Linked DNA regions of Homo sapiens: all the other regions are reported to be linked to region 1. Evidence: microRNA targets listed by miRTarBase, many of them from high-throughput screens and not tested one by one. Region 1 holds a microRNA gene; each other region holds the end of a gene's coding sequence.

Region 1 (4,080 bases):
TGTCTTATTGTTTGTTTGTTTTGTTCCTATTTCTTTCTTTTCCTTGATTTTCAGTATTGGTTTTTTTACATTAGGTAGAAACCTACTTCTTAGTAGACTGAGATTGCATAGAAGGTTTCTACCAGTCCGTTTGACTAGAGATTTTAAGGTGCCCCTCTTATTTCGGTGTTTGTTCAGACTGCTGTGCCTATACCAGAAGGTCTATGACATCTTATAGTACTAGAAGTCTTATCATGACATTTTTGTTAAAAACTTAGAAATTGATTTCTGAAAAGATTTTACAAATGTAGTGAGGTATTTTCTGTATTTTATCATACTAAATAATCTCCAAATAATCTGATAAATGAGCATAGTGTTCAGAAAAAACCTCTTTTAATGTGATGAATCTTTTATAGATTTAGGCATATTTATGGCAAACCGACTATGCTGTATCAGTCCCCCTTCACACCCCCGAGGCTCAACTGAGATTTACCATTGGAATTAATTGTGAATGGCTTTGTCTCAGGACTATAACATATTCCAAGCTAGAGGTTTCAGGAACAAAGCGTCTGCATCTGTCTTTGTCTTTAGCCCTCACGTGAGGAGCCCATTTATTAGCCTTCTTTATTAATTTTTTATATGGAGAAGTGACTCAACATGTACTAGACAGCCAAATAAATTACTGATCATCTCCTTCTATGCACAGTTTCATATTACCAAAAACTATACGCATATATGAGTTAAACAATTTGGTAATATGTTAACAACATAATATCTAGAAGTATCTCACCACTTAAAACATACGTGCACAAACACACATATTCAATCTTGTTGGCTTTTATTTGTTTCAATACTATAATTCTATTTTTGATATCCCTTCAATTATAATTTAGTTTCCATTGTTATGATATATAAATATATTTGTGCATAGACTATTTGGATATTTTATATTTGCATTAACTAAAAATTTTCACCGCATTTTTGCATGCATAATTTTGTTCTATTTCTTTCTCAATTTTGCTTTAAAAAGTATCTTCATTTTGCAGATGTGCAAGCTGAACAGAGGATTAGAACTTATTTTTTCTAAAAATCTAACAGTTAACTTCTAGCAGCATTGAGACCAGAATATAGATCTTCTGACTCCAGGCTCTTTGCGGTAAACATCAATCCCTCTGTGGCTAATGTCCAAACACAAGATGAAAGAAAACGTGGAGCAGAATACAAAAGGAATTATTTCATGCTGCATTCAGAGGTGTCATTCATACCCAGGAAGCACTTTTAATTACCAATCTGGTGTTAATTTTCTTATCTGTGTCTCATCTGTGACTAAACATTATCCAGCCCAGGCTGATAAATTCTGATATGAATCAGATATTATTTCAAATTTATGCTTTAGCCATACCCATGTAAGCAGTCTCCTACCCCATATATCTCATTTACAGAGACTGTTTATTTGTAGTTAACTTTTAAAAATTCAGATTCATAGAATTACAACTATAAATTGCCAAACATGTATAGAATTATTATTATACAGAAAATAATATCAGTGTCATTATATCCAATTAATCTTTCATTCAGAATCTTGTGCAGAACAGATTAAATTGAGAACTTAATTTTTTACACATTCACGATTTAACCAGAGAATGTGGCTCTATTTTATATTAACAAATAATTTCTTTGTTTATTCAATAAGCAGTATTCATTGTATTATTAAAAAATGGTCTACTCATAAGGTTTTAAAACAATTGAGTCTATTTATTTCTTTTCCCCTCATGTGTTAATATTTTTTTTGCCTAGTGCTTTAGAAAATATATGACCTAGAAAGCAGCCTAATTCTTGTCACAGCTGCAACCTTACTGATGCAGAAAATTTGGCATTTATATACAATGAAGCTGTCTCTAATGCTTTGTCCACCTTCTAGAATCCCCTTTGTTTAATTACTATGTTTGGAGCCTCAAAAAGGGCCTGCTTTCAGGAATAAGTGGATGGGAATGAGGGGATGCTGATGTGTGAATAAAACGGTGATATAAAAGAAAATGGCTAATTCCCCCCTCTGGCTGAAGTCTGTGGAGGTTGTTCTGCCTGTCACTGATAGCTGTGTGAGTCAGTCTCCAATTTGGGAATTACAATCCTGACCCACCCCCACACCAGGATTGCCCCTGCTACACGTTTCCATGGTGCCAAACTTCCCTGTCCTAGCACGTGATGGCAATTGCTTCTGCTTTCCCTGATAGATGTGCAGGGTTGGGGACAATGCTTGCCTTCCCAGAGTCACATCAATATCTCGCACAGAGCTGGCACATGGCGGGCCCTTCATAAATGCTTGTTCAATGAAAGAATAAAGACAGTTTAAAATTTGAGCTCATTTCTGCCTTTTTCTTTTTAATAGCTTTATCAAAGTATAAATTGATAGACAGAAAAACCCCACATGTATTTCATGTGTACAATTTGATGAGCTTGGGTATACATATACACCCATGATATCATCACAATCAAAATGATAAACATATCCATCGCCTCCAAAAGTTTCCTCTGCCCCCTGCTTTTTGTGGCAAGTGTACCACAGAAAACTTGAAGCCAAACTTGTGATCCTTCGTTGTTCCATTTCCAAAGCTATTAGGTTGGTGCAAAAGTAATCGCGGTTTTTGTCATTACTTTAATTACTTTACGTTTCATTAATGACAAAAACCGCAATTACTTTTGCACCAACCTAATACTTGCTATCATCACTTCTTGTCTATTTTCCATTCCTCTTATAAATGTTGTACAAACTAAATCACACTTAAATAAAATAAATGGGAAATAAAGAAAAAGGAAAAAAGGATGAATGCAGGGAAAAAACACTGCCTGGGTCTGTCTTCTGTCATTCCCCAAAATAACAAGCACAAGCCCTGATATTCATATTCCCAGCATTCACCAGTTGCCCTTTTTTTTTTTTGAGATGGAGTTTCACTCTTGTCGCCCAGGCTACAGTGCAATGGCGTGATCTTGGCTCACTGCAACCTCCACCTCCCAGGTTCAAGCGATTCTCCAGCCTCAGCCTCTCGAGTAGCTGGGACTACAGGTGTGCACCACCATGCCTGACTAATTTTTGTATTTTTAGTAGAGATGGGGTTTTGCCATGTTGGCCAGGCTGGTCTCAAACTCCTGACCTCAGGTGATCCGCCAGCCTTGGCCTCCCCAGATCCTGGGGTTATAGGCGTAAGCCACCCTGCCCGGCCCAGCTGACTTTTATCTTGAGTGACAGTTTTAGAGAAAGGAGGAGGAGGAAATTAGTATATATGGCAGTAGTATGACATTTCATGATCTTAAAAATAGATTTCACCAACTGTAGAAGGTGTTCCCTAAACTAACTGCCTGTGTAGTCTTAATCTTCTCAACGTAACAACAGGTAGTCCATATTGTGGCAGGGTTGGGAGGTGGTGATGGAAAGGGGAGGTGTGAATTCCACAAGGTCTGAGACTGGGACAGGAAGTCTCCATTTTGGCAGTGCTGGTGGGGTAAGAAAGGGCTAATTAGAAGAAAATGCAGAAGCTGAAGTTGAAAGATCAGGCAAAGGCAAAATACTGGTCTAGTAGGAAGTCCAGATCATGGTCAAGTTGGATGGCTTCAGAGGGAGCTATTCAGATGGGCTCCAAAAGTGTCAGCGATCTTCTCTGATAAGCTACCCAAGCTCAGGGCAGGGATACTGATGCTCATTTTATGGTAAGAGCCAGCAAATGAGATGCACTGATTCCACGTTTGTGGATTCTAAACAGCATTTTGCCTTCCTTCTCTATAGTCCTCTTTGCAGCACTCCACGTTACCACCACGGGCATCCCAGATGTTCCTCCTTCATAAACACCTCTAGTTGTTCGCTTTCCCAACTCATCCCTTTTCCCAGCCTCAAGGAAGATAAATCAGTTTTGGGCATTAACTTCCATCCAGTGCACTGGGCTGAGGAATCAGCATGGCTGATTCTGCTATCACTTTCACGAAGCCTGGGGGCAAATGAGGGGAGTAGGGAGGGGTTGGGACCAGGGCACACACATATTGTGAATCTAGGAAGAATCTTAGGATTAAAGCTGTTGCATTTTCCACTTGTATTGAAGCCTTGGGGGT
Region 2 (4,080 bases), not on the chromosome of region 1:
CCAGTTTTGCCTCTTTTAAGTACTGTCCAGTTGAAACCTCCTGACTCATGTACTACTACACAAACTAGAAAATGCCCATTTATTTTTGTTGATTCAACACTCCAGATACAGATTGATACATATATACTAATCATTTTATTTCATGTAAAAGTTTTACATCTAGGGTGCCTATTTATTTTTATAGATGCTTTCATCCAGTTATAAGCTTATTATAACTTTGTAAATATTTCAGCCAACAGTTGTAATGTTTAAAATACTTACCTTCAGAATGTTATATTTTCATGTGAAATCAATTTCTTCTAATTCAAAAAAATTTTAAGATAAACTGATTTTTAAGTTTATATGATTGGACTTCTCTTTGCATTCATGAACTGTGTGTCACCCTCCCACCAACGTGGATTATTTTGGGACATGTTAAGTCGCGGGTACTTGGAATTTCACTGATCATAAACGGTTATCACAGGAGATCCTAGGAGTTAAACTCCAGCAAGGTCTAAAGCACAGCTCCTTAGAAAAGGAGTTGGCAAACTTTCTATAAAGATAGAAAATAATTTAGGCTTTGTGGACCATAATATTTCTGTAATAACTACTCAACTCTGCCTTTGTAATGTGAAAGCAGCCATAAACAATATGTAAATGAATGAGCATGGCTGTTTTCCAGTAAAACTTTGTCAACATAGAAATCCAGATTGCATATAACTTTCATGTCATGAAAGTTTTTTTTTTCTCCATTTTAAAATGTAAAAAATATTCTTAGCTCACAGGCTGAAGTCTCCAAATGTACTCCCATGCCACTTACGGACTGAGTATTTGCAGCTCTTTACATCCTAAAACGTTCAGGTTAAGCTCCCTAAAAACTATCCCTTGCAACTGCTAACAAGCCAGTTCATTTCAAAAGGAACTACTAAAACAATCATTTCACTTTATATAAAATGGTGTGAAATTTACAAAAGAATTTATCAGAGTAAAGTCACATTTTCTTTTGATGTCTTTTTTGTTTTGTTATCTTAGCAAGTTTGCAACTTTTCTTGGCGTTCCATTTATCCACTTCTTAAAAGCCTTCAAACTGAGGGCAATGTAAGCAGTCACTATACTTGCTATGGCACAGTTTAATGGTAGGTACAATTTCTTACCTATAGGAAAGATTCAGCCTTCATACTGCCACCATTTTGAAAATGCCAATTACAGTCATGTCATATTACTAAGTCAGGGTTTGCCATAGAAAGAGAATCAACAGGATATATATAGAAATAAATTTATTATGAGGGATTGGCTCTTGTGATTATGGAGGCTGAGAAGTCCCACAATCTGCTTTCCGCAGACAGTAAGCCCAGGAAAGCCAATGGTGTAGTTCCAGTCCAAACCCAAAGGTCTGAGAACCAGGGGCCCTGGTCCATGTCTGAAAGCCAGAGAATCAGGAGAACCAATGTCCAAGGATAGAACATGGATGTCCCTGTTCAAGCAGAGAGAAGACAGAATTTGCCCTTCCTCTGCCTTTTTATTCCAGCTAGGCCCTCAAGGGGTTGGCCCACCCGCAGTGGAGTGGGTGGCTCTTTTTTATTCAGTCTACTGATTCAAATGCTAATCTCTTCTGGAAACACCCTCATGGACAAACCCAGAAATCTGGGCATCTCCTAGCATAATCAAGATGACATATAAAATTAACCTTCACACCAAGATCTCTCCATCTTCACCATACTAGAAATTTTCAGAATATTTGGTAATTGTGGTAGTAGGCTGATTTTAGGCTCAAAAAGGCAGTATGGATTATGATCGGAAGTCTGTGTGTGACCTAACAGTAAACTATGTGAGAACTGTTAATCACCTCACAATCACACCACCAGGTAATTTGTTAGAATAAAACCAAACTCAGCTATATAAGTAAACATTTATTAGATGAAACCATTAGCAAGCAGTGCAGAAACAGTTCACACAGTTGATTTGGTAAACTCAGTGAAATCCCAGTTCTGTGTTCCTACAGATGTTTCAACCATACCTTCCATAGATGGTTCTCTTTAGGTTGATGTGACAACACCTTAAAAGCATAATTGCTAACTTTATAGTCAGCAATTATATTCCAGACTTGACTAACCCTAAGAACGATTTTGAAAGGTAGGAAGATATACAGAGAGTTTACCAGATCTTATGCCCTGTTTAAAAGGCGGGGGAGTATCCCCAAAATATTTAAGACAATTCATATATGCTGAATGCAACTAATTTAAACAAAAGACCACTTCTACCATTCCTCATGTAAAGCCTTTAGGGCTAACAGGAATATTTTCTTTTTGAGACAGGGTCTCTGTTGCCCACGTTAGAGTGCAGTGGCCCCATCTTGGCTCACTGCAACCTCCACCTCCCGGATTCAAGCAATTCTCGTGCCTCAGCCTCCCAAATAGCTGGGACTACAGGTGCATGCCAACATGCCCAGCTAATTTTTTTGTATTTTTTTGTATTTTTTAATAGAGATAGGGTTTCACCAGGTTGGCCAGGCTGGTGTCACAACTCTTGACCTCAAGTGATCTACCACCCTTGGCCTCCCAAAGTGCTGGGATTATAGGCGTGAGCCACTGTGCCCGGCCAACATTAATATTTTTTATTAGCTACTACAGCTTAGAGTAGCTGCTATGGGAGTGTGGCCTTTTTGATTAAATACTAGCTGATCAACCCTAGAATATAAATTCTTGTTTTATAACATTTAGATTTAAATAACAATAAGAATGTAAGCTCCATGAAGGCAAGAATGCCTTTTTGTTTTGTTCACTGCTGTGTCTAAAATAATGCCTGGCTCAAATATTTGTTGAATGAGTAAATATGCTGACTTTGCTGAAGTATTTAAGCAAGTTACAGATATTATACAAGTAAATATTTTGGGCACAAGCACACTTAATGAAACAGTAAAAAAAAAATAGGTTTGAAACACATAATCCTTCGTTATAGGAGGCTCAAGAGTTTAAAAGGAAAAAAGGGGGAAGATACCCAGGTAAGAGGGCATGCATGCTAGCTTTCCAATACTTTGATATTACCTGCTTTTTCTAAGACTGTATCAACCTGTCGCCCACCCATAACCTATCTTTTCATAACAGAGTCCAACTAAACCTAAAAATTAAAACTGGAACCTAGCAGCTTCTACGCAATCTAAGAATACTTTGTTCCCTCTCTCAAAATCTTTCCCTGCTTTTGAATAATTGACTTTTGAATTCATAAAAACCTTCCCTTATTAATCATCCTATTACTTGCATCATAGTAAACCCTGATCAACTCTTAAAACATTAAAAGACATTACTATATTTCTTAATGAATACACAAGACCTTTAAGTACAAATGCTTTTATATTCAGCCCCTGTAAAGCCATCAGATGTTTGAAAGTTTTTAAACACGAACCAAAGGGTTTAATTTTAAGAACTTAGCTAGGAATGGGTGAAATCCTACCCAATTAATAGAGTTCTGCAAATTAGTAACAAAGTGTAAAATGAAAGGAAGGGTCCCTTGGAGATGTGAAATTCTTCTATTGAGAGTCCTGTCTTCTTTATTCAAGAAGTTTGTAGCCATTTTCAGAATTCACTCAAGAACCAACTTCTTAATTTAGATATCAGCGAACAAGTCTGTAAAAAGCAAGTATTTGTCAGCAATATGTGCTTTATCTTCCCAGTTTTTAACACTTTATGCCTATTTACATATTGATAAAAAGAAAAGCCTAGAACATTTCTTGTAAGGCCTCTATTTTCTATCCAGAGCTGAAAGTTCAGGTCATAAAAACACACACACACACAAAACCCACTGTATTTGAGATTATCAGTCTCTACCAAAACAGGGAGGGAGAGTAAAACTCTCCCTTTACAAATGGCTTGACAGAGAATTTTATAGAAATCCCTATCCCTTTTGCCATCCTCCCATTAATCCCTCTCGCTCCCCTGCCACCCCTTTTTTTGAGACAGGGTTTGCTTTGTCTCCCAGACTGGAGTATAGTGGCACGTTCACAGCTCACTGAAGCCTCGACCTCCCCAGCTCAAGCAATCCTCCTATTTCAGCTTCCCAAGTAGCTGGGACTACAGGCGTGAGCCACTGTGCCTGGCCCTCTCT
Region 3 (4,080 bases), not on the chromosome of region 1:
AAATAATAGTTATGTGTACAGGAAAAACTGTAAATTTTACTACATGTGAAAAAGATTTCTGCTTATTAAAAAATACCAAAGAGGCCAAAAGATTAGGAAAAGTTACTGAAACAACATATGACAAACACTAACCTTAATATATAAAGAAATATATATATTTCTTAAATATGTAAAGAAATTTGTAATCAGTAAAGATGACCAACAACGTGATGGTGAAACAGAAGAGTTTATAGTAACATGAACATGCCTGTTAAACATTTGAATAAATGATCAGTTTCTCATAACATAGAAATAGAAATGAAATTATAAATTGTGCTGTCTTGTTTGATCAAAAGTTTGATAAAACATTTAATAGTATACATATTCCAGGGAAGATGTTTCCTGTTCTATCTCCCAACACATACAGTGTTATTACCACAATATAGTGTCAAACCGTCAATGCAAAAATCTTTAATCTCCTTGCCCTGATGATATCTGTCTCTACAATATCCAGTACTCCCACGTCAATAAAATTTATACACCCATTTTCTGTTCCCACCTACCACACTAAATTCTTGTGATCTTTCTACTCTGCACTCTGAAATCCACAGTAACTTATTAGCATAATGCCCCCACCTTTTAAAAAAGCATTCTTAATTTGCCTTTTATTGTTTCTTAATTATAGGTTTAGGAAGTTACAAGGGCAGTTGTGTTACATACACATATAGTGTAGTGGGGAAAGTGTTGGCTTTTAATGGACTCATTACCTAAATAATGTACCTTGTACTAAATAGGATTTTTTTTGGTTTTTTTTTGAGATGGAGTCTGGCTTTGTTGCTCCCCCGGCTGGAGTGCAATGGCATAATCTCGGCTCACTGCAACCTCCACCTCCCACATTCAAGCAATTTGCTCTGTTGCCCAGGCTGGAGTGCAATGGCACTATCTCAGCTCACTGCAACCTCCGCTTCTCAGGTTCAAGTAATTCTCCTGCCTCAGCCTCCCAAGTAGCTGGGACTACAGTGCCTGCCACCATGCCCAGCCAATTTTTCTATTTTTAGTAGAGACAGGGTTTCGCCATGTCAGCCAGACTGGTCTCAAACTCTTGACATCATGTGATCTGCCCGCCTTGGCCTTGCAAAGTGCTGGGATTACAGGTGTGAGTGCCTGGCTTATTTTTAATTCTGTGTATGTGATGAATCATGTATTGAGTTGCATATGTTGAGCCATCCTTACACCCCAGGAATAAAATCCACTTGACTGTGCTGTTACTATCTTTTTTATGTACTGTTTGATTTGGTTTGCTAGTATTTTGCTGAAGATTTTTGTGTCTATTTTCATCAGGGATATTGGCTTGTAGTTTTTTTGTGTGTTTTATCCTTGCCTGGCTTCAGTATCAGGATGATACTGGCTTTGTAGAATGAGTTAGGGAGGATTCCCTCCTATAATTTTTGGAATAGTTTCAATAGTGCTGTTACTAGTTCTTCCTTGCATGTCTAGTAGAATTCAGCTGTGAATCTGTCTGGTCCTGGGCTTTTTGTTTTTGCAAGATTTTTTTCTATTACTGATTCAATTTCAATACTCAGTAGTCTGTTGAGGATTCCTATTTCTCCCTGGTTCAATCTTGGAAGGTTATGTGTTTCTAGGAATTTATCCACTTCCTCTAGGTTTTCTAATATGTGCATATAGTTTCTGCTGATATTTTATATGTCTGTGTTATCAGTTATAATATCACCTTATCATTTCTGATTGTATTTATTTGAATCTTCTTTTTTTCTTGGTTAATCTAGCTAGTGGTCTGTCAGTTTTATCTTTGCAAAGAACCAACTTTTTCTTTTATTGATCTTTTGCATTCCTTTGTTCTCAGTCTCATTTTTGCCTGCTCTGATATTTGTTATTGCTTTTCTTCTGCCAGCTTTGGGTTGAGTTTGTTTTGTTTTTTCCTAGTTCCTTGAGATGTGACGTTAGGCTATTCATTTGAGATTTTTCTATCTTTTTGGTGTAGGCATTTAATGCTATAAAATCCTCTCTTAGCACTGCTTTTGCTGTATCTCAGATGTTTTCATGTGTTTTGTCTCTATTTTCATTTATTTCAAAAAATTTTAAATTTCCACCTTAGTTTCATCATTGATCCAAAAATCATTCAGGAGCAAGCTGTTTAAATTCCATGTATCTGTTTTGAGAGTTCCTCTTGGTATTGATATCTAGTTTTATTCCACTATGGTCAGAGAAGATGTTAGATATGATTTTGTTTTTTTAAAATTTATTGATACTTGCTTTGTGGTCCAGTATATGACCTATTTTTGAGAATGTTCCATGCACAGAAGAGAAGAGTATATATTCTGTGGTTGTTGGGTAGAATGTTCTTCAGATGTCTGTTGGGTCCATTTGGTGTAGAGTCCAATTTAAGTCCAGAGTTTCTTTGTTGATTTCTGTCCCAGTGATCTGTCTAGTGCTGTCAATGGAGTGGTGAAGTCCCCTGCTATTGTTGTATTGCTGTCTATCTCTTTTCTTAGGTCTAGTAGTATCTGTGTTATGGATCTGGGTGTTGCAGTGTTGGGTGCATACATATTTAGGATTGTTTTATCTTCTTGTTGAATTTATCCTTTATCATTATAAATGACCTTCTTTGTCCTTTTTAATTTTTGTTGGTATAAAGTCTGTTTTGGCCATCACGGTGGCTCACGTCTGTAATCCCAGCACTTTGGGAGGCTGAGGCGGGCAGATCACTTGAAGTCAGGAGTTCAAGACCAGCCTGGCCAACATGGTGAAACCCCGTCGCTACTAAAAATACAAAAAAAAAAAAAAAAAAAATTAGCCGGGCATGGTGGCGCATGCCTGTAATCCCAACTACTTGAGAGGCTGAGGCACAAGAATCGCTTGAACTCAGGAGCTGGAGGTTGCAGTGAGCTGAGATCACACCACTGCACTCCAGCCTGGGCAACAGAGCGAGACTCTGTCTCAAAATAAAATAAAATAAAATAAATTTGACTAACAACTTATGTATAAAAGGAAATTACAAATATATTAGACAAAATCATTCTAACAGGGTATTATGGGTTGAACTGTATCCCCTAAAAAGATATGCTGAAGTCCTAACCCCTGGTACCGGTAAATGTGACCTTACTTGGAAACAGGGTCTTGGCAGATATAATCAAGTTAAGATGAGGTCACCAGGTAACCCCAATCTAACCTGACTGGTGTCCAAATAAAAGACATACACAGAGATACACAGCGAGAATGCAATGTGAAGATGGAGGCAGAGATTGGAATGGTGTATGTAAAAGCCATGGAATGCCAAGGACTGCCAGCTGTTAACAGAGGTTAGGAAAAAGGCATAGAACAGATCCTCAGAGTCCTCAGAAGGAACCAAAACGATCAGCACCCTTGAGTTTAGATTTCCAGGCTCTAAACTATGAGAGAATAAATTTCTCTTGTTTTAAGCCACCAAGGTTTTGGTACTTGGTACTTTGTTATCGTATCGTTTAAAAACGAATACATAGGAGAACCTTTGATAATATGTATCCTAATTTGTTCTCCTTACCTGTTTTAAAAAAATTATTATAAAGGTTAACAAAATGGTCTTACTTTACTGTCATTCAACCAGTATGAATTCCCTCATGGCGAATGAGGTCAGAGCGACTACCAAAAGCCTTTCCACATTCCTTACAGTCATAGGGTTTCTCACCAGTGTGAATTCTCTGATGTCGAGTAAGATTTGAGCCTTTATTAAAGGCCTTCCCACATTCATTACATTCATATGGTTTTTCATCTGTATGGATTCTCTGATGTTGAATAAGTTCTGAGCTCTGAATAAAGGCCTTTCTACATTCTTCACATTCATAGAGCTTCTCACCAGCATGAATTCTGTGATGGTTAGTAAGTGTTGAGGCACTATTAAAGGCCTTCCCACACTGCTTACATTCATAAGGTTTCTCACCAGTATGCATTCTCTGATGCTGAATAAGCCTTGAGTGTTGAGTAAAGGCTTTCCCACATTCTTTACATTCATAAGGTTTCTCACCAGTATGAATTCTCAGATGTAGAAAAAGTTGTGAACTTTTAGTAAAGGCTTTTCCACATACTTTACATTCATAGGGTTTC
Region 4 (4,080 bases), not on the chromosome of region 1:
CGGCCGCCTCCGGCCCGCCGCCGCCCCCAGCGCCGCCGCCGCCACCGCCGGGGCGCCCACCGCGCTGCCAGCCTACCCCGCGGCCGAGCCGCCCGGGCCGCTGTGGCTGCAGGGCGAGCCGCTGCATTTCTGCTGCCTAGACTTCAGCCTGGAGGAGCTGCAGGGCGAGCCGGGCTGGCGGCTGAACCGTAAGCCCATTGAGTCCACGCTGGTGGCCTGCTTCATGACCCTGGTCATCGTGGTGTGGAGCGTGGCCGCCCTCATCTGGCCGGTGCCCATCATCGCCGGCTTCCTGCCCAACGGCATGGAACAGCGCCGGACCACCGCCAGCACCACCGCAGCCACCCCCGCCGCAGTGCCCGCAGGGACCACCGCAGCCGCCGCCGCCGCCGCCGCTGCCGCCGCCGCCGCGGCCGTCACTTCGGGGGTGGCGACCAAGTGACCCGCTCCGCTCCTCCCTGTGTCCGTCCTGTGTCCGCGCGCGCGGGTGCCTTTCCCGCCGGAGACTCGGCCGGTGTGCTTCGTGCTGTAGTTATCGTTAGTTCCTCTTCCCGAGATGGGGCCGCCGAGAGACCCCAGCGCCTTTGAAAAGCAAGGTTTGTGCTGCGCTTCCAGTTCCGAAAAGCAGATGTTTAAGCCCTTGGACTGAGGGTGGGATCGCAGCTCCGAAGACGGAGAGGAGGGAAATGGGGCCCTTTCCCCTCTATTGCATCCCCCTGCCCGACTCCTTCCCCGCACCCACGTGCCCTAGATTCATGGCAGAAAATGACCAAATCCTGTGTATTTGTTTTATATATTTAATAACTGTTTTAAATGAAAGTTTTAGTAAAAAAAATACAAAACAAAAAGATTAAATTGCTATTGCTGTAGTAAGAGAAGCTCTTTGTATCTGAACATAGTTGTATTTGAAATTTGTGGTTTTTTAATTTATTTAAAATTGGGGGGAGGGCATGGGAAGGATTTAACACCGATATATTGTTACCGCTGAAAATGAACTTTATGAACCTTTTCCAAGTTGATCTATCCAGTGACGTGGCCTGGTGGGCGTTTCTTCTTGTACTTATGTGGTTTTTTGGCTTTTAATACAGACATTTTCCTCCAGAGATGTGTATGTAGCTTTTTCTTTATTTGATTTGGGAAAGGGAATCCCAGAATTGCAAGACGTTACCCTAAAACCTGAGCAAGGGAATCTCGGAAAAGTTAGAGAAGGGCTACTTCTGTCTCCTTTACCTGGCTGTGAGAGATAGATGGAAACAGTATTATTTGCCCTGATGGCGATTGTCTTGCATCTCACCACACTGACCCTCAGTTCCCATCCACCCCCCACCTGTCACGGTGGCAAACACAGTTTTATATGATTTAACTTTTTGCTCATTGTTCTAAGCTCTGCAAAACACCCAGGCAAGCATCAAAATGGTAAAATCAATAGTTCCTCTGAGCTGGATGGCTTTCACGAAAATGACTCACTTTAAAAGGCATGTAGATTTCTTTTCATATGCATGAACTTTAGCAGATAAGCACATTCCAAAAGCTGGTATTAAAACCTGAGATATTATTTTGGCATTTAGATTTTTTAAAAAGATAAACTCTTGGGGGATAAATAGTTAATGATCACAAGATTTTCCTCACTCTTGGTTTCCATGTTACAGTGTCTGCTGTGTAGTAGTTTCAAATTCTTCCAGGTTTTCAGAAGAATAAGTAAAAAGTCCTTAAAGAGACTTAATATTAAAAATTATTTTAAAAGCGTTTTTAAGAGACTTTGAAAGCTGCTTTCCCTTGCTCCATCTCGTCCTCATTTTGCAAGCATATCTGAGATTGGTCTAGAGCTATAGTTCTCAAAGCCTGGTCCCTGGACCAGCAACATCAGCATCACCTGGGAACTTGGAGATGCAAAACTTGGGCTCCACCCAGGACCTATAGAATCCGAAACTCTGGGATAAAGCCTAGCAATCTGTGTTCTCACATGCCCTCCAAGGCATTCCTATGCATTACCAGTTTGAGAACTGCTCTGCTGTGTTCTAGTGGAATGGAACCCTCAAATGTAGGTTGTCTCCTTTTATCTTGAGATGTCTATTATATCAAATAAATGGGATGCTTATTTTCCCAGCAATCTGGCTGAAGGAGAGGCTGGGTCATTGCCCTGCAGCTTCAGCTGCCCCTTTGACTCTTTGAGGTCCTGAGATATCTGTAGCAGGTACCAGCCCCTGAGAGGGGAGAGGGTGGAGTATTGATCTTTGTAGGTTGTAAGCATCACCATTTTTTAACCCTGTGGTAACTGGCAGGAGAAAAGTCAATAATTTTGCTAACCTTGATCAATTTAATGTAATCATAGCATTTATAACTCTGGAGACACATTATGTATTCTTTGTACACACATGTAATCACTCTCCCTGCTTTTTTCCAAGATGTATACCATGGCTCAGAGAGATTGAGCATCTTGTCTACAATCACACAGCTACACGAGGCAGAGCTGAGACTAAATCCAGGATTTCTGCCTCCCTGAATGGTATTGTTCGTCACTAGAAACTTCTTTTCCCAGGAAAATTAGGAGCTCACTGCTCAAGGTCCACCGTTTTGTTGACCTACCCTAGCCAATGTCAGATTTTGTGTAGCTACAAACCCCAAAGAACCTGATAGCATTAATTTTAAATGAGACACTCAGGCACTTAATGGAACTTTCTATATATGGGCCCTAACATCTACCTTTTAGGGGTGATTGAAATATCAACATCTATTGACTTTCAGAATTGCCAGTGGAACCTGCATGTGTGCATGTGTGTTCTGGGCTATGTGTGTGTGTGTGTGTGTATCACTGATGGACTAGTTAGTCCCAGAAAGTGAGGACAGAGCCTGTAGGTCCTTTTGATCTTGTTCAGCTGTAGTCGCCCACTGGGTAAAGGAAGTCAGGCCTTGACAAGTTCATCTGTGGGGTCTGTATTTTCTAGTCAGTTTGATTTGCATCATCTCAGTAGTGAAACGCTTCCAAGTACGTAATTTACTAAGGATAAGTCAGGAGTTCTATGACAGGAAAAGACGTGTGCCATTTTAGCCTGTGTACATGTGCACATGGCACCCCCAGATTCCAGCCCATTTATAAAGCTTCGTGGGGCCAGCTTGAGTTGCAAATGATATAGCGGAGTCCCCAGGATAAATCATCATTGTCAGTTATTTTTGCTTCTCCTGAGAGAAAGTTTACTCCTGGGGAGAATGGATACCCCTTGTTTAATATCCAGCTGCTGCCGAAGGCTGCCTTACTGAGTTTTCTGCTTTCATCCAGAGAGCTGCCTCCAGCCCCAGATCTGAACACTTTAGTCTTCTTTGGGTCTTGCCTCAGCGGAAGAGACCACCCTGTCTAAAGCCGCACCTCCTACCTGGGGCACCACATCCAATGACTGATCAACACAGGGGCAGAAAGACCCAGCCCTCTGGCCACAACTGGGGCAGCTCTGAAGGGTCCTCCACTACCCTCCAGCGCCCGCCCCTCTTCCATTCAAGACTGACTTCCCTCAGGGCTGGCTGAGGTGTCCATGGAGATTTCATGGAGTTGAACTACTCCCTCTGTCCACGTCTGCCTCCTCCCATTCCTTCCCTTCCACAGGCCTTAATCCACACTCCCTAATAAGCCTCTTGCACAGTGATCTCTATCTCACAGACTGCTTCTTGAGGAACCCCACCTGTGACAGGCAATTTACCCAACAACGTGCAGAATTGTTCTAGCCATGTGGTCATTAGGCACATATGAGGAGCACATCACAAAAATGCTTCTCATTTGCATTTTTTTTTTTTTGGAGACAGAGTCTCACTCTGTCACCCAGGCTGGAGTGCAGTGGTGCGATCTTGACTCACTGCAAGGTCCACCTCCCGGGTTCACGCCATTCTCCAGCTCCAGCCTCCCAAGTAGCTGGGACTACAGGCGCCTGCCACCACGCCCAGCTAATTTTTTGTATTTTTAGTAGAGACGGGGTTTCACCGTGTAAGCCAGGATGGTCTCGATCTCCTGACCTCATGATCTGCCCGCCTCGGCCTCCCAAAGTGCTGGGATTATAGGCGTGAGCCACCGCGCCCGGCCTCATTTGCATT
Region 5 (4,080 bases), not on the chromosome of region 1:
TTTAATCACGGTTTATCAGGATTCAGCTGCCCATTAGACACCTTTCTGTGTCTCTCTCTCTCTCTCTCTCCAGCTCTTCACAGAGGTCCTCCAGGATCAAGGGGACCACTGATTCCACCACTGCTGAGTCTCCCACCTCCTCCTTGGGGTAGAGGCCCAATTCGGAGAGGGCTTGGCCCCAGGTCTAGCCCATATGGTCGTGGTTGGTGGGGAGTCAATGCAGAACCTCCTTTTCCGGGGCCAGGCCATGGGGGTCCCACCAGGGGAAGCTTTCACAAGGAACAGAGAAACCCTCGAAGGCTCAAAAGCTGGTCTCTTATCAAGAATACCTGCCCGCCCAAGGATGACCCCCAGGTTATGGAAGGTGAGGTCCATTTTGTTATGCCCATTACTCCCAGAGTGACCTAATTTTCAGAAGATCATTCACAATCTTCTCTGGGCTTTCCTTTTTGCTTTTGAAGCAGAAGTAGACCTCAATGTTATTTCTCCCAGGAGAAAGACTACCATTCCAAAATACCTGGAAATGGTAGGGGGTAGAAAATCAGTTCTCCTTCTGTCTCTGCGTTTCATTGTATTTGTTTTCTTTGTTGCTCAAATTTTTAACTGTTCCATTTTCACTTGTTCACAGACAAATCCGACCGCCCTGTCTGCCGACATTTTGCCAAAAAGGGCCACTGTCGATATGAGGACCTCTGTGCCTTCTACCATCCAGGCGTCAATGGACCTCCTCTGTGAGACTGTGCCTTCCCATCCAGGCTGGAAGGAGCTCTCTGTGACCTAGCGGCCATTTATTTCTCTGTAGCCCTATGATGGCTACTGTGAGGCTCTTCTAACACCCTCAGTCAGTGACACACCCATCCCATCCACCACTTCCCCCGTGTGGGGTCCAGAGTGGTGTTGCATCACTGGTGCGCGGCATACGCGCTTTCTTCTGATCCAGCCTGTAGAGACTCGCCTTTGGGACCCATCTTTGCTTCCTTTCAGTTGCCTCCTGGATCTTCTTTCCCGTCATCAAATGACTGCTGAACAGGAAACCTCTTTGGTGCTGTTTCTTGTGCATCTGTCCACCTGTTCCCCAGTATTGCCCTCAATTCCTGAGAGCCCTGGAGCGGTTTCCTACCATTCCCTTCTTTTAGCTGCTTGTTTTAAGTCCTTTTTATGTGACATTCCCTACCCCCAATGTTGTCAGCTGCTTGTGAAACTCAGCCAGGTTGTCTAACCTGGGGTCAAGTTTGGGTGACTGGTGCAGAGTTACTTCCTAAAAGGCCACTCTCCCTGCCTTTGGATTTCATAGTTTCTCTGTCAGTAGCATGATCCCCACCGCTATGGTCTATCTATGATCACCGTGCTTTGTGAAACTGTGCATCCCCTTGTAGCCTTTCTCAGTGTCCGTGGCATTTTTGTGACTTCCCAGCACTAGAATAAGTTTTCCTGCCAAAATGAGTGAGGCGCTTGGTGCCCTCTGGACTTTCCCACTTCCCAACATGGGAGAATTGTGAACTTTCCATCAGACTGCCTCCCTGGCCCTCCCCATTCTTCTCCTGTTGGTTATTCTGAGTCTGACACAGACCCATGACATGTCTTATAAAGCCTCCAATGGCTTTATCCTACCTAGATCCCTTCCAGCCCATTTTAATTAGACTATGTCATTGTGAGGCCACCAGTCCATTCATTTGAATTCTGTGAATCTCCACCTTGCCTATCTTTGGGTAGAAGCTGGACAGTACTGTTGCCCTCTTCCAATCCTCTTCCCCTACATCCCTGGCACTGGTTGTTTTCTGTGAAAACAGCAGTGAACAGGTTCAGTTTTGAACTGGCCCTGAGGAAATGGGTCAGGAGTTGTATTGGCAAGAGGGAGGGGTGAGAGCTGTTGGAGAACTGAGAATGAGGTTTTTTTTTTTTTTTTCTTTTTAACTTTTTTTATATTAGTAATAAATGCAGTGGAAACCAGCATTTTATTTAATCCCTGTGTTCTAGTCATCTCTGGAGTTGCAGATGAAGCTGTTCTCACCTGGTGGAGTCAGCTTATTCTTTAGTTCATACACACTAGTGATGGGGAATGACAAAGCTTAAGGTTCTTCCAGGCTGAAAAAAACCAATGGAGGTTCCATTAGCCTGTAGGCATCAACCAGAACAAGCTGCCTTATGTTCAAGGGCAAAGTTTTGTAAGAAAAAGGAAAGGCCAGGTGTCCGTGGAGTTATTTTTAAATATTTTACTTTGCAGAGTTTGTGTTTATGGAGTGGTAATGATGAAGGAGTCTTTCAGCAGCAATTTGCAGAATGCCTGTGGGCCAGGCAATATACCAAGCACTAGAGATAACTGACAGCCAAAGCCAATGGATTTAAAATGTACAGGGAAGACAGGTTTCTCATAATCACAAATAGCATGTAAAGTTAAACCTGTCAAAAGTGCTGGGAAGAAGACAGGGAAGAAAAGAGGGTGAAAGAGAGTTGTGTAATAAAGGGAGTCAGGGTAGGAGATGCAACTGAGACAAGCTCCAAAGGATAAACAGGAGGTGGGGTGGGAGAGGGAAGTCAAGGCAAAGGTCTTCGCTAAAAGACCTAGGGGAAGAGGAGCTAAGAAACCTAGGGACAGTGGGAGATGATGCAGAAGAAAGAGGAGTTAGACCACTCAGGGCCTTGGAAAACATGAAGATTTGGCTCTTTTCTTAGAACAGAAGCCTTTGAAGAATTTTAGACAGGAGTATCATGGCTTAGGCTGGCTTTTCAAAAAAAATCAGCTTGTATGGAGAGGGCCCACCTTGGACCTGGAAGTTAATTAGAAGGCTACTGGCTACTTCAGTAGTACAAGTGAGCCATGATGGTGACATAGACTTGGGTAGTAGAGTTGGAGAAAAGTAGACATTTGAAAATTACAGGTCAAAATAAAAGTATCAGATTTCTCCAGGTAGTTCTGGCTTATGTAACTGCCATTTAAAAAGAAGTCTTAAGATAGAAGTTTATGGCTGGGCGCGGTGGCTCACGCCTGTAATCCCAGCACTTTGGGAGGCCAAGGTGGGTGGATCACGAGGTCAGGAGATCAAGACCATCCTGGCTAACATGGTGAAACCCCATCTCTACTAAAAATAGAAAAAAAATTAGCCAGGCGTGGTGGCCGGCGTCTGTAGTCCCAGCTACTCGGGAGGCTGACGCAGGAGAATGGCGTGAACCCAGGAGGCGGAGCTTGCAGTGAGCCGAGATCGCACCACTGCACTCCAGCATGGGCGACAGCGCAAGACTCCATCTCAAAAATAAATAAATAAAAAATAAAAATAAAAATAAATAATTTTTAAAAAGATAGAAGTTTATTTCTCTCACAGGTCAAGAGGTGGACAATCAACAATCCAAGATGTGTGACAATGCCACCACTACAAGGTCCCTGAGTATTCAGAACCTCAACCCCCAACTTTCAGATTCACAACCACAAGCTTCTATTCACTGTCCAAAGTGAAGCTCTGGCTTCCTCATCCATGTTCAAAGCCTCAGGATGGAGGAAGGGCTGAGAACACCAGTTGTCTGGGAAGAAACTTCTTTTTTTTTTTTTTTTTTTTTTTGAGACGGAGTCTCAGCTCTGTCGCCCAGGCTGGAGTGCAGTGGCATGATCTTGGCTCACTGCAAGCTCCGCCTCCCAGGTTCACGCCATTCTCCTGCCTCAGCCTCCCGAGTAGCTGGGACTACAGGCGCCCACCACCATGCCCAGCTAATTTTTTGTGTTTTTAGTAGAGATGGGGTTTCACCGTGTTAGCCAGGATGGTCTCGATCTCCTGACCTGGTGATCTGCTTGCCTCGGCCTCCCAAAGTGCTGGGATTACAGGTGTGAGCCACCACGCCCAGCCGGAAGAAACTTCTTAAAAGTTAACTTATAACTCCTCAACTTATGGGCAAGCATTTAAGTTGAGTTTATTAATTCTACAGAGGTTATCTCCCTAAAAGGGGGCTAGGAATGACAGGATTAGGGTTTGTGTTTGGTGATTTCAAAAGAAACAGGAAATTGTTCTGGCTTAGATGCTGTCAGAAAGATGACTACTTCTTAATCTTATCTAGAAGGAGGGAGAAATGAAATATGGCTAAAGCTGTAAG
Region 6 (4,080 bases), not on the chromosome of region 1:
AAACAAATTCAAAAATTTTAAAAAGTAGCTAAATATAAAAATGTTGGGGAAAAGACAATACTTCTCCCCCCACCCCGTTGTTTTTTTGTTTGTTTGTTTGTTTTTTTGAGATGGAGTTTTGCGCTTGTTTCCCAGGCTGGAGTGCAATGGCATGACCTCGGCTCACTGCAACCTCCGCCTCTGGGGTTTGAGCGATTCTCCTGCCTCAGCCTCCAAAGTAGCTGGGGTTACAGTCATGTGCCACCACACCCAGCTAAATTTTGTATTTTTACTAGAGATGGGGTTTCACCACATTGGCCTGGCTGGTTTCGAACTCCTGACCTTAGCTGATCCGCCTGCCTTGGCCTCCCAAAGTGCTGGGATTACAGGAGTGAGCCACTGCGCCCAGCCTCCCCCTTTATTATATCAATTTCTATGACACACATTACTGTACTTGTAGAAAAATTTGGCCACTGAATTCACCAATGTACCCAGATGTCTTATGAAATAAGTTTTTCTTACTGTTTAAGACACATTTAATTAGATTTTCTGCTTCTTGCAGCTTATTGCATATTGATACAATGCTCTTTATCAAAACAAAACTCAACTCTAAACTCTGAAGAATGTACAAATTCCAGTGAGTTCTTGATGACTATAAAGACCCTGTTATTCTCACACAGGGTGGAGGCAGGAATTTCGCAAACTACACAAATAGCTGTAGTTTTACCAGCACCACCCTAATAATTTTGCTTCACACTTTCCCAATCATTGAACAGTTCCTAAGATAATGTGCCTATTTTGTTTTTAGCATTGTTAGCCACATCTAGAAATGTGACAAGGAGTCTAAATTGCTTCTTTGGAAGTATTTAAAGCCATTTGTAAGTCTTCCTCTGTGGTTCCCTAAAAATGTTGTTTAAATGTGTATTCTAACTTTCCAACAAGAGGGACAGTTTATGGATGGGAAATGGATTTGTTTCTTTTCTATCCTAGATATATCTAAAATCTAGTATTCTATATAGGCACTCAACAAGATTGTGCAGCCAACTCCCACAACTACAGAGACAGCTTTTCATTTAAACATCACACTTCTGTAATAAACACTTACAAAGGTAAGAACGTTTTAATTAAATGGATTTATTTAAAAAGACTATAAAATCTGACATCAAGAGAGATAAAAAAAAAAGACCCATAAGATTTAAATTGACAAATATAAAATGATTGGCTACAATGTAAAAATACATTTCCCAGCCCCCAAACAAAACACAAGTATAGTAATTATAAAATTTTTGTACTGTGAGTTCATTTCTCTTATAATTCTTGAGAACCATTCTAAGCAATCTATTTGTATAAAATATAAAATTTATCATAACTGTTAATTTAAAAATTATTTTAAATTTGAGTTTATTGAATTTGCCATTTTTTTGTACATAACAGTGGTTTCTGGTCCCAAGTTCCCCTTGAACTTATTTACTACAATGGTCTTTTTACTCCTATTTATTTCCTTCTACAATAGAAAAGAAAGGCTAACCATTCATGGGTCCCATAAAAAACAATGTGAAGGAAGGTTCTAAGAGTGACCAAATATACCAGTGAACATACTATCTTTCTGAAAAAGAAAGAATTAAGTGACCAACTAAGAGATCCACTTTTGCACCAATGAAACACATGGAGGTGAAACCTCAGAACAAGCGGAGCTTAAGCTCAATGACAGTATGTTTTATATGACAGGCCAGCTGAGAATGTATCTGTCAATCCTGACTAAGCCCAATACATGGGTGGTGACCCTGAGGTAGCCCAGATGATATGCTCTGAATTTTAGATAGGTCTAAATCACAATGGTACAGTCTGATGTGAAACTTTAGTCTACCTACCATAAACTCGTTTTCTGAATCAGTCCTTATTCATAATTAGACCCAAAACCCAGCTATTTCTCCTCTCTTAGATGACATGCCCAATAAAAACAGCATCCATGATTGGTTTCATTATCTCCCAATTAAGTAGTGGTGACACCACCACTAACACTAGTATCCAAACTCTGATACAAATCCTAAAGGTATTGAGTCAGTAAGACAGAGCAGAAGCTATGTTGGGCCATACTGACCAATTTCTGAGAACCACATTAGCCACATTCATGCAATTAAAACCCATCTAAGACACACAAATGGCAGATGAGAAAAAAAAAAAAGGATGAGGTCATTAAACTTTATCACTGGAAACATGATTCCACTGTTTCAAATAGGAAACCTACCCTGGGAGACTTCCACCAAAGTGCAGAAGGACCTGATGCACGGGCTCATCATCTTAACACTAGAGTCCCAAGTCAAAACTCTAGGAGGAGGATAAGAAAGGTCTAGTCTGTGAATCACCTGGACAGAAAGGTCATATCCCAAGTGCCCTGCCTATCTGTGACAGCTGCTAGCCAACAGACAATTCTGGTTATGAAGTTATCTCTTGAGAATGGCTTGATTCTCTTATGCCACCAACAGTATTAGTCTGGGCAGGGTTCCCTGGATATTTACTTTTTTTTTTTTTTTTTTTTGCCAAAGACAAACTAGAGCAATGCCTATGTAAGAACAAGGACTCTCAAGATCCTGCTACACAGTATTCACAATCAAAAGGGCCCAAGATTCAGGACCACCTAAAGACAACTGACAAAAAGTGTCAGAGCCAGAGGCCAACCTCTGCTAGATGAAGCAGCAGCACATGACTCCATTTCTATCTGATAAGGAGACAGAGAAGAGGCATCTCGAACAGATGAAAAACCAAAGGCTGGTGTCCTAAAAAAAACAGATTGGCTTCAAAGAAAACACTAAGGAAGACCCACAGAGCTGTATTAATTTTAGTAAAAATAATCATATGCCAACAGGGGAATTGAACCACTTTCTAAATCATAGTATGAACTCATCTCTTCAGATACTTGGTAAGTGGTCAAAGCTTGTTTTTATAATTACTTTCACTGTCTTGGGCAAAAAGTCTTTCTTATCTTTGGTCCTTAGGTGTGGTATCAGTTTCTTCCATTTTTTTATGTGTTACAAAACAATCTTTTTTTTACTTGACATCAACAACCAAGGTGCAGTATAAACACGAAGTTGCTGATATTGTTGCTTTTATACACATAAAATACCAACATCTCCCATACATTTTATAGGCTATACGAAGGTCTCAAAGAATTAATAACCGTTATCCAAAAATATTATAACATTTAAGGCTGAGTGAAATACAGTAAAGCCTGGTAATATATGTTAAGGAAAAAAACCTAGACCAACATTTTAAATATTGGTTTCTTAAATATGTTAAATTCCCATTAACAGAACATAATCTAAGCATCAAAACAAACAGCTAAGCAAATTAATTTAAAAATAAAACAATTTCTAAGTAGATGAATATAATCACGATGTTTATACAGCTATAAAGCATAATTTGGAAGCTAAGCCTAGTAAAAGAATGACCTGTAACAGAATGACAGAATCATTTATCAACCGTTGAGCTGTGTGATTTAAAAACAATTGTTTTCTCCTCCTCCCACCAAAATCTCCATTTGAGATAAGTTTCAATTATTATTTAAAAAAAAATTTTTTTTAACTTATCTGGCCTACTTTGTGGTGACTGACACAATATTGATAAAACTGCCTTCTTGACCTTCCCCTTGCTCTCCAAAAGAAGTGGTTTAAACAATTAACAAATTTTACAAGAGCTTCTGCCAGGGCTCAGGCACCACAATGCAGGGTCACTACCTTAGGTAACATCTGCTCCCCAGAGTCTTTAGGCATTAAGTGGCTCAGTGAGGGCTTCAGCCCTAGTGGTATTTTCAGGTTTTCTCAGCTGGGACTCCTGTCGTTTTTCATACAGCATAGTGATAAAGTCAAGTAGGAACATAAAACTTGCTATAAATCCAAACACCTGAGGAAAAAAAGGAGGAAAGGTTATATGAGAATTTTGGAATATAATCTTACATTTCCTACTTGGCTTGGAGAATGTTTCATATAAACAAGATGTTCATGAATTTTATCTTATACACGACTACTCTTTAATGGTAAAAAAAATTTTTTTAAGTCATCAAAAAATGGAAAGAAGTTATAAAAGAAAAACTTCCAGAATAAT
Region 7 (4,000 bases), not on the chromosome of region 1:
TAACTGATCAGAAAATTATATTGATATGCAAAATCTCCAGTTAAAACCAATCTTGCAGTGCATTAAAAATACCGATTTCTCATCAAAACCTACAATATACCATGTGAAATGACATGGTGTGAAGAGAACAGTGAGAAAACTGTAGCCACAGCACAGCAAAAAGGAGGGCTGTGATGCATACACAGCTGAAATACACATAATAAGACAAACAAAACTAAGACAATTAGGAAATAAAAGAAGCACAATTTTTTAATTCAGCAAAACTGAGCTTTGCAGCCTGAAAATAAATGTCCTCTCCACATAAAAAATCAATGTTATTTCTCACAATTGATATGTTCCATCTCTGTCTTGAAGTTACAAACTAACTCCAACAGGAATATTTATGGCTTATTATAAAGCATCTGTGACACAGAAAGCACTGTCATGTTTGTTTGCTATATTTATATATAAAAACATCCTCATGATTTAGGAAGCCCCCCTAGTACTCACCTAAATAAATGGGCTCAATCAATATTTACTTATTTTCATTATAAAAACTGAAAGGAACAAAAACTAAAAAAAGTAGGCTTATACAGCGTTCTCCAATTAAAAGAACAAAATAAAATATTCTAACAACATAAAATATAACAATACACTAATTTTGAAATTAAATCTAAATTTTTTGCACTAATTTTATAAAAATTATTTTTATAATCTCTGACCAGCTCACATAGCATCTTATATAAAATAAGAGAAAAAAATGTAAGACACAAGAAAATTATGGGTCTAGCCTAAGAATCAGGCAAGTAAAAACAAAAATTTGCATAGGGAGATTCTGAATTATAAGCCATACAATTTTACAGTAATCAATTCAATACAAAGCAGAGAGTATGGATTTGTTTTCAGCATTTTTAAGTTTTTTTAGTTTTGCAGTCATCATCTAATTAAAATAATTTGATTTGTTTCAATATTGCTCTTCTGAAACTAGGTAGAAACTCATACTCGCAAAGAAGGCATTTATTTACTCCATAATTTTTTTAAACCCAAGCTTTATCTTTAAAGTAATATATGTATATATTTAACTCTGTGTAAATCAAAACTAATAGTCTGTATGTGCTTGCAGGCAGAGAGGCAACATGTTTGAAGAAAAATATATAACAATTTTTTAATGTTAATTCAGGTCTCAGAAATGTATGCATTTTGTTTATATTGTTTTCTTATGACCATAAAAGAGACCCTGTAGCCAACAACAATTTAATGTACATTTGAAAACAACTAAAAGTGGCTGGGTGTGGTGGCTCCCACCTGTAATCCCAGCACTTTGGGAGGCCGAGGGGGCTAATCATGGGGTCAGGAGTTCAAGACAAACCTGGCCAACGTAGTGAAACTGTTTCTACTAAAAATACAAAAATTAGCTGAGTGTGGTGGCATGCGCCTGTAGTCCCAACTACTCAGGAGGCTGAGGCGGAAGAATCACTTGAACCCAGTAGGCGGAGGTTGCAGTGAGCTGAGACCACGCCAATGCACCCAGGCGTGCACAGCCTGGGTGACATAGTGAGACTCGTCTCAAAAAAAAACCGAAAAGTGCAGAATTAGTTTATAATACAAACAAATACAAACAATAAATGCTGCAGGTAATGAATATTTCATTTACCCATATGTAATTATTACATATTATATACCTGTATCAAAATATGCCATATATGCCATATTTACACATACTATGTACCCACAAAAATTAAGAAAAATAAGTTTAAATAAGAAAAAATGAGTAATAATTCAACCTACAGGAATAATATTCTCTGACTTATTTGCAATTTAAAGCCACTGGCAAAACAGATTACTAGAAATGTTAGTCCATTATCTTATTAAATAGTGTATAGTTACCATCATTTACCTATACCCTTGAGTAAGATGGGATAAGTTAAATTTAATGGCATAATAATGCTTCATTGAATGCACGATGGTCTTAACATGTTTTTTAAAAAGCCTGATTAATAAGTTCACACATTATCTAAAAATTTTAAAATGTACTACATTTTATTACATAAAAGTACAATTGGCCAGGCATGGTGACTCGCGCCTGTAATCCCAGCACTTTGGGAGGCCGAGGTGGGTGGATCACCCGAGGTCGGGAGTTTGAGACCAGCCTGACCAACATAGAGAAACCCCATCTCTATTAAAAATACAAAATTAGCCGGGCATGGTGGCACATGCCTGTAATCCCAGCTACTCGGGAGGCTGAGGCAGGAGAATCCCTTGAACCTGGGAGGTGGAGGTTTTGGTGAGCCAAGATCACACCATTGCACTCCAGCCTGGGCAACAAGAGCAAAACTCTGTCTCAAAAAAAAAAAAAGTACAATTAGTAAAATGATATACCAGAAAATTTTTTTTCTCAATATAACACAGGATATTTATCTGAACTCCTACCTCATGCATCAGTCAATATTATAAATTAACCAGAAAGAGCCTCTCCACTTACATTTTCATCTTGCATCTTACATTTTAATGTCCTTAACTCTTTCACTAAAAAAGGTCGTAAATAATGCACACCTAATAACAAAGAATCTCTCATCTTTGATGCAGCAACAATTAAGTCACATGCTTTCACATGTGAATACAATAGGAATGAAGAGCATAACTTGAGTTAAATGACATTATTCACTTTTCATAAAACCTAATTTTTTTCAAAGGATAGTTTGAATGTAGTTACAACTCTGCAAAAATTTTCTACTTCTTATAATGTTATATACAAATAATTCATTTACCAACTTTAGTTTTAGATTCTTTTCTATACTCAGCAATCTGATTTAGTGTAATGCCTGAAGTGTCAGTGCCTTAACTATTTCTACTGTGAATTATCTGATATTTACATAGAATTTTGGATTAAATATTTTTTCATATTTACTGCATCTGCAAAAATAGATTTTAGTATGAACCCTCTAGTGTTTTCTAAGCTGTCGTTTTTGAAAAAATGTTTTCCCAAATTTATTACATTTGCAGGGTTTTTCTCCAATATAAATTTCCTTATGTTGCACAAAGTTTAAGCAACTGCTCCATGGTTTTCCTCTAGCACAAAATGTGTACAATGAGATCTGTGATACAAGTAAAGGTACCACAACCCTCCTTATGTTCATAATGTGTGTCTTCAAAATGAATACTCTTCACTTTAGAGGCTTATATTTTCTGAAAGATTTTTGACAGTAATTGCATGTATAATGCTTTTATTAAGTATGAAATCTCTGATGTTGAGTAAGATGTGAACAGATATTAATGGCTTTTTCACATTCTGTATATTTGAAATTTTTTTCTAGTACAAATGCTTTCCTGTGCAATAAGGTGTGAGCATTGGTTAAAAGTTTTGCCACATTCTTCACACTTGTAGGTTTTTTTTTAGTATGAATTATCTTATGCACAATCAAGTGTGACAACTTTTAAAGGTTTTGTTACATTCTTCACATTTCTAAGATTTCTCACCAGCATAATTTCTTTTATGTTTAGAAAACTTTGAAGTGTTTTCAAAATCACTGTTACATCTTTTAGGTTTGTAGAGTTTCTCACCAGTATGAATTTTCTTATGTCCAGTAAGGTTTGAGGACTGGTTAAAAGCTTTGCCACATTTTTCACATTGGTAGGGTTTCTCTCCAGTATGAATTCTCTTATGTCTAGTAAGGTGTGAGGACTGGTTAAAGGCTTTACCACATTCTTCACATTGGTAGGGTTTCTCTCCAGTATGAATTACCTTATGTGTAGCAAGATGTGAGGAATGGTTAAAGGCTTTGCCACATTCTTCACATGTGTAGGGTTTCTCTCCAGTATGAATTTTCTTATGTTCAGTAAGTTTTGAGGATCGATAGAAAGCTTTGCCACATTCTTCACATTTGTAGGATTTCTCTCCAGTATGAATTCTCTTATGTGTAGTAAGGATTGAGGACTGGTTAAAAGCTTTGCCACATTCTTCACATTTGTAGGGTTTCTCTCCAGTATGAATTCTTTTATGTGTAGTAAGGTTTGAGAACTG

The links. Region 1 holds the annotated microRNA hsa-miR-548z (CAAAAACCGCAAUUACUUUUGCA, at 2,662-2,684, shown strand). A microRNA usually pairs through its seed, bases 2 to 8, with sites in the 3' UTR of a target mRNA and lowers its output. Matches are read on the target gene's strand: a 7mer-m8 pairs with bases 2 to 8, a 7mer-A1 pairs with bases 2 to 7 and ends in A, and an 8mer does both.
Region 2: the mRNA of ARLN is a reported target of hsa-miR-548z. Seed matches in the 3' UTR shown: 8mer at 3,202-3,209.
Region 3: miRTarBase lists ZNF829 as a target of hsa-miR-548z. Seed matches in the 3' UTR shown: 7mer-A1 at 3,463-3,469.
Region 4: miRTarBase lists TMEM158 as a target of hsa-miR-548z. Seed matches in the 3' UTR shown: 7mer-m8 at 917-923 and 7mer-m8 at 1,067-1,073.
Region 5: miRTarBase lists PRR3 as a target of hsa-miR-548z. Seed matches in the 3' UTR shown: 7mer-m8 at 1,889-1,895.
Region 6: the mRNA of CMTM6 is a reported target of hsa-miR-548z. Seed matches in the 3' UTR shown: 7mer-A1 at 3,477-3,483, 7mer-m8 at 3,230-3,236, 7mer-m8 at 2,737-2,743 and 7mer-A1 at 1,935-1,941.
Region 7: miRTarBase lists ZNF681 as a target of hsa-miR-548z. Seed matches in the 3' UTR shown: 7mer-m8 at 1,552-1,558, 7mer-A1 at 787-793, 7mer-A1 at 531-537 and 7mer-A1 at 448-454.

The regions. Positions count from the first base shown.
Region 1 is chr8:27,047,475-27,051,554 of GRCh38, reverse strand. MIR548H4 (microRNA 548h-4) reads left to right here and starts at 2,592; the gene lies at 2,592-2,702.
Region 2 is chr4:119,295,178-119,299,257 of GRCh38, forward strand. ARLN (allregulin) reads right to left here. Exons shown (of 2, transcript NM_001001701.4): 2 at 1,242-3,602. The coding sequence ends at 3,602. USP53 (ubiquitin specific peptidase 53) reads left to right here. Exons shown (of 19, transcript NM_001371395.1): 19 at 1-341. Among named protein-coding and RNA genes, the nearest start is that of ARLN, 3.4 kb to the right of the region's middle.
Region 3 is chr19:36,887,917-36,891,996 of GRCh38, forward strand. It overlaps ZNF829 (zinc finger protein 829), which reads right to left. Exons shown (of 6, transcript NM_001037232.4): 6 at 208-4,080. The coding sequence ends at 3,576. It also overlaps a transcript of ZNF345 not described here. Among named protein-coding and RNA genes, the nearest start is that of ZNF829, 26 kb to the right of the region's middle. RefSeq lists an enhancer at 3,511-4,080.
Region 4 is chr3:45,221,487-45,225,566 of GRCh38, reverse strand. TMEM158 (transmembrane protein 158) reads left to right here. Exons shown (of 1, transcript NM_015444.3): 1 at 1-1,101. The coding sequence ends at 442. Among named protein-coding and RNA genes, the nearest start is that of TMEM158, 2.8 kb to the left of the region's middle.
Region 5 is chr6:30,561,761-30,565,840 of GRCh38, forward strand. PRR3 (proline rich 3) reads left to right here. Exons shown (of 4, transcript NM_025263.4): 3 at 74-364; 4 at 629-1,963. The coding sequence ends at 735. Among named protein-coding and RNA genes, the nearest start is that of PRR3, 6.5 kb to the left of the region's middle.
Region 6 is chr3:32,480,219-32,484,298 of GRCh38, forward strand. CMTM6 (CKLF like MARVEL transmembrane domain containing 6) reads right to left here. Exons shown (of 4, transcript NM_017801.3): 4 at 1,094-3,879. The coding sequence ends at 3,742. Among named protein-coding and RNA genes, the nearest start is that of CMTM6, 21 kb to the right of the region's middle.
Region 7 is chr19:23,740,170-23,744,169 of GRCh38, forward strand. It overlaps ZNF681 (zinc finger protein 681), which reads right to left. Exons shown (of 4, transcript NM_138286.3): 4 at 1-4,000. The coding sequence ends at 3,443. Among named protein-coding and RNA genes, the nearest start is that of ZNF681, 17 kb to the right of the region's middle.